2 separate regions of the Homo sapiens genome follow, and region 2 is linked to region 1. A link means that fine-mapping ties the variant in region 1 to the expression of a gene that starts in the linked region. Tissue or cell type: whole blood. Region 1 holds a variant in brackets; the other region holds the start of a gene. All regions are shown on one strand. Distances are from middle to middle.

Region 1 (2,756 bases):
AAATTCTAGGCCTTGCCCACTCCCCCTGAGGTTGGTAGGGACCTCAGGCTGTGTGTGGGGAGAAAAGATCTGGGGTCGAGTCCTGTAGGGCTTGAGGGGTGCTGGGCCAGGAAACAAAAACTAGCTTGAGGAGGGAGGGGCATGTACGAGGGCAGTCAAGGTCAGAGGTGCTTCTTATGTATCTTTATCCACAGTGCTTGGCACAGAGCACCTGGACACAGGCTTGTTAAAGGAATGAAGGAAAGAAGGGGAGGAAGCCTGGGCCTTCTGAGTCAGTGAGAATGGGACTTTGAATAAACATGCTTCGGGGGAGACCTGCTTACCAGTCCCCAAGGGCCCCAGTCTGTCACCACCTTGCACCCTTACCCACACTGTTAACTCAAATGGATGCTTTTGGTCTCTCTCTCTCTCTCTCTCTCTCTCTCTCTCTCTGTGTATGTATTTGCCACATGGAGAGGGCCTCTGTTTCTTTTTGCTTCAGGGACCTCGCTGGCCCTGCAGTCTGTTCAGTCTGGCTGGGCTAAAAACAAAACAAAACAAAACAAAACAACCACAAAACAACTCCTGGATCAACTCTGGAGGACCCCTCTCAGAGTGTCCTGGATAGCCAGCATTAGTTGTGAGAGTTGGAGCTTCAGATCCCCCTGAGACATAAAGGCTGAGAAACAGGAGGAGGGTGATGATGGGGGCAAAACTTTTAGGCCCAATTTCCTTGCTCTGGGAGGTTTTTCCAGTAAGACTGAACCAACTCCTTTAGGCTCTCTGGGCCATCCTAGTATAGTGGGATGGGGCAGGGGGTGATGTTGGTAAGAGGGGTGTGGTGTCGATCTGTTGTTAGCCCAGCTAAACAGGAGAGACACACAGTGGGAGGTGGGCAAGGAGGAAAGATGAATAGAAGCCCCAGGCCCCCTGCCAATTCAGATTCCATCTCAGCTCCACAGCTGGATCTTCCTTGTCTGTTTTGCCTGATATCTGTAGGGCTGTACCTTTGTCTTGCTCGTATCTTCCCTCACCCTAGCCCTCCCTGTCAATCTCTCACTTGAAGATAAATGCTTACGGGGGGGCCATTTTGTCTTAGGCAACATCCTTGGAGTTTGCTTTTTCAGACTTAATATTCATTCATCATTTAGGGAATGAGGGCTACAGGAGACATGATTTTTAGGAGACCCTTGAGGGTCCCAACAAGGGAAGGAAATTCCTACTCCTTTTTCTCTTTTCCCCTCTAGCTCTTTTTGGAGCCCACCAGGTCGG[G/C]AGCTGGCTTAGGAATTAATGGGGGAGGCTGCTTCAGGATGTCTAGGAAGGTGCGGGAAGAGTGAAGGTGGGAGAGATAATCTTTCCCAATGCAGCCCCTACTCCTTCCTGTGACTGCTCTCCCCTTCGCCTCTGCAGCACTGCGGCCAGCGCTGAGCTTCAGAGTCCCTTCTGTTCGTGGGCTTTGTTCTGCTTGTTAGAGGGTAGGAGAATAAGCTGGAGAGACAGCTCTGTGTGCCTTTTTTCTCCCCTACTCCTCTGACTTCTTCCAGGAACCTGGGGGATGGGGCTTAGCCAAAGTTAATGGCCTGAGTCATAGCAGAAGGGTGTCTGGGTCACCGTCTGTGTGTGGTGCCCATCTTGTTTTGCTTTTGCACACTCAGAATCCAGTGTGACTTTTTCGCCAGACCCATTTAAGTGTCTGTCTTCCTCTGCCTTGGTCTTTCTCAGCAGTGTCCCAGTGCCTGCTGTCTGGACTGCTGCATCTGTACCAGATGTGGGAGGGATGACAGTGAAGAAACACATACATACACACACACACTCTTTCTCTTTCCCCTTCATTCAAGTGTACACAGCTACCTCCCTCAGGTCTCCCAATGGTTAAGTGGGTTCTTAATGCAAGAAACTAGGACCATTGTGTACCTCACTTGGCAAAGCTAGGTTGGGACCTGCAGGGTTATTGGAGCAGAATCAGTATTGTTTGGGGTGGCCTGGGATTTGATATCTGAAGTGGGGAGCAGGGCTGTCCTTTGCTTTGGGGGAGTCTCATAAAGAAAAATGGAGACGAGAAGTAACGTTCATTGTGGCCAGTGTCTCTCCAGCATTACCATGGCAACAATCCCCACGGGTGTCACTATGGAAATCAGGCCTGGCACTTGAAGTTCAGCTTATACCAAGTGCTTTACTGAGGGTTGAACAGGTTGGTCATCTTTGGACCCCTGATCTTAAACCCCCAGCCCCAATTAGCTTCAGTCAGCACACATGATAGAAAAGTACAGAAAGGTGCTGGGATACACAAATGGAAGAGGAGACACCAGGGAGGCTCGGAGTGTGATTAAATTAAAAGAGAACAAAGAACCCTGGACTGTGGGACTCTGAAGAGAGGCCCTTCAGAGAAGGCTATAAGGAGCACTTAGACTGCTGGGGGTGGGAGAGAGATTGGATTTCGGCGACATTTCTAAGAGGAGGAGGGACTCTGTGACTATTTCTCATTAACAACTCACAGAGTCTTCGATTACCTGGAGGTAGAGAGGGTGGGTGGCAGAATTACATACTTCTGAAAATGGGATTGAGGTTGGAAAAAGGGAGTGATGAAAGGCTTTAGTTCTGTCTGGAAATACTTGGAAAAATGCCCAAATGTGAGGAGGGGGGATATGGAGTAGGGGAAGAAAAAGCCTTGATAAGGCTCTGACACAGTGTTGGCATTTCAGTTCTTGGATCACTTTGCAGTGTGGGTCTGGAATCAGATTGCTTGAATTTGAAACTGTGCTCTACCATTTCTCAGC
Region 2 (2,611 bases), 38 kb after region 1:
TCCTAGGTTATATTAGTAATGCCACAAAGAGTAATATTAAAAGCTAATGATTTATAATGTTTATACTGATGATTGATAATTGTCCATGATCATCTCTATATCTAATTTGTATTGTAACTACTCTTTATTCTAACTATTTTCTTTATTATACTGCAACAGTTTGTGCCTTCAGTCTCTTGCCTTGGCACCTGGGTAATCCTTTGCCCACAACTCCTGACCTCAGGTGATCCTCCCGACTCGGCCCCGCAAAGTGCTGGGATTATAGGCGTGAGCTACCGCATCTGGCTTTTTTTTTTTTTTTTTTTTTTTGAGACAGAGTCTTGCTCTGTCGCCCAGGCTGGAGTGCAATGGCATGATCTGGGCTCACTGCAACCTCTGCCTCCTGGGTTCAAGCGATTCTCCTGCCTCAGCCTCTCAAGTAGCTGGGACTACAGGCACCTGCCAACATGCCCGGCTTTTTTTTTTTTTTTTTTGAGATGGAGTCTCACTCTGTCACCCAGGCTGGAGTGCAGTGGCGTGATCTCTGCTTGGCGTGATCTCTGCTTGGCGTGATCTCGGCTCACTGCTACCTCCGCCTCCTGGGTTCAAGTGATTCTCCTGCCTCAGCCTCCTGAGTAGCTGGGATTACAGGCTCACGCCACCACGCCCGGCTAATGCCCGGCTAATTTTTGTATTTTTGTAGAGACGAGGTTTCACCATGTTGGCCAGGCTGGTCTTGAACTCCCAACCTCAGGTGATCCTCCCGCCTCGGCCTCCCAAAGTGCTGGGATTACAGGCGTGAGTCACCGCGCCCGGCTTCGTTCTTTCTTGTCTCCATGTCTTTGTATGCTGTTCTCTTTGTCTAGACAGCCTTTTAACCTCTATTCCTGAACTCCACCCACCCTTCCAAACTCAGTAAAGTCTCTATCCTCTTTGAAGCCTTCCCTGACCAGCTACACTTCCTTTCTTTGTATCATTGTCTTTGCTTCATACACAGTTCTAGGATAGCTCATACTTTGCATACTGCAAACTTGATCTCCATTGGCCAGCCAGTGCCATTAGACTCCCAACTACTTCGGGGCAGTCACTGTCCTATACCCTGCTTCAATAAAAGGAAAATCAGCCCCTAGAACAGGACCTAGTACAACTAAGTGCACAATAAATACTTGTTAAATGAATGAATGAATTTCAAGACGCTTGAGACCACTGGTAAGAATTTTGGGTTTCCAAAACCCTCCCCTTCCCAACCCCCATTCGGTAAGAATGCTTTCGCATTAGCATCAGGTCCGAGGTTACTCATTAGAAACTGGGCAAAGCCGGAAGGCGGCCACTTTGCAGCAAAGAAGCCCTAGACCTTGGGAGTCAATCAGGCCAGCCCAGGCCGCACCACGGTCTCCTAGTTGACAGTTCGAGGGGCCTCGCGGGCCGCTTGCTTCGTCAGCTTACAGGGATCCCGCACGCCAGGTGAGCCCACACACTGAGCGGACATTGGGGCAGGCAGGCAGGCGCCGGGGGGCGGGGCCAGCGTCGCCCCGCCCCGTCCTGCCTCGCCCTGTTCGCGCGTCCGCTGTCCGGCCTCCGGTCACGTGACAGCAGCGCAGGTGAGCGCCGCTTCCGGGGTCGGGCGCCTGGATAGCTGCCGGCTCCGGCTTCCACTTGGTCGGTTGCGCGGGAGACTATGGCGTCCTCCTCGGTCCCACCAGCCACGGTATCGGCGGCGACAGCAGGCCCCGGCCCAGGTTTCGGCTTCGCCTCCAAGACCAAGAAGAAGCATTTCGTGCAGCAGAAGGTGAAGGTGTTCCGGGCGGCCGACCCGCTGGTGGGTGTGTTCCTGTGGGGCGTAGCCCACTCGGTGAGAACCAGCCCTAGACCCCCGCAGCCCTGTCCAAACCCCTCGGCTCCGAGGCGTCCCTGTTTCCAGGCTCCAGCCTCCGGAGCCCCACGCAGTGCCACTCCCCTCCCCCGGGTTGTCTTGGTCCCTGCCCACCAACCCCAGGTGTTCCCCCAGCAGGTTTTCTGACTGTGGACTTTTTTCTCCCCAACAGTTCTTTACTGCTCCACTCTAGTTCCACCTTCCCCCCGTGAAATCCAGCTCCCTGTGCTTTGACTCCTTCCTGCCATGTCTAGCTTCAGCCTCAGGCTACGCGGACTGGCCAGGACCGGGCGCAAGCGGGGAGGACATTAGGGGGAGTGGCTTTTTCTCGGGTGGTTGTTGGTGAGAGTGTAGGTGGAGGGTGAGGGGCCGAGGGGAGTAGATGGATGAAAAGGTTCTTTCACTTTGCTTTCCACCTTGCTTCCCAGCCCCGGTCCTTGGCTTTTGAATCTTGGTTTTGTCTCGGGGAAGCTCCAGGTTTCCTGGGCTTTCTAATCCTGCTTGTCCCTTCCTTTCCCTTCCAGAGGTACAGCATTTTAGAGAAGCTACCCCACCCTGAGCTAGAAGTTGCACACTCTCAGGACTTATGTATATATGCCTTTGGTCTTAACTGCATCCTTATCGCTGGCTAGAGCGATCGTGTTTGGTGTAGGTGGTGGCGATTGTTGACCAAAGAGAAGGCTGAGGGGCTCTGTTCCTGAGGTCACTATGGTGGTGAACTTTTGAAGCAGGAAACTGCTCTGGGAGTCAGGAGGAGGC

What was found. PIP is the estimated chance that this variant, and not a neighbour inherited with it, causes the effect.
Region 2: PIP4K2C starts here. The variant in region 1 is the best candidate, but not a certain one, in a credible set for the expression of PIP4K2C in whole blood (INTERVAL, PIP 0.70).

The regions. Positions count from the first base shown.
Region 1 is chr12:57,551,476-57,554,231 of GRCh38, forward strand. All of the region lies in intron 1 of KIF5A (kinesin family member 5A), which reads left to right. Among named protein-coding and RNA genes, the nearest start is that of KIF5A, 2.8 kb to the left of the region's middle. The variant G/C (reference allele first, on the strand shown) is at 1,252.
Region 2 is chr12:57,589,633-57,592,243 of GRCh38, forward strand. PIP4K2C (phosphatidylinositol-5-phosphate 4-kinase type 2 gamma) reads left to right here and starts at 1,560. Exons shown (of 10, transcript NM_024779.5): 1 at 1,560-1,831. The coding sequence starts at 1,658. RefSeq lists enhancers at 1,168-1,217, 1,298-1,799 and a silencer at 1,398-1,657.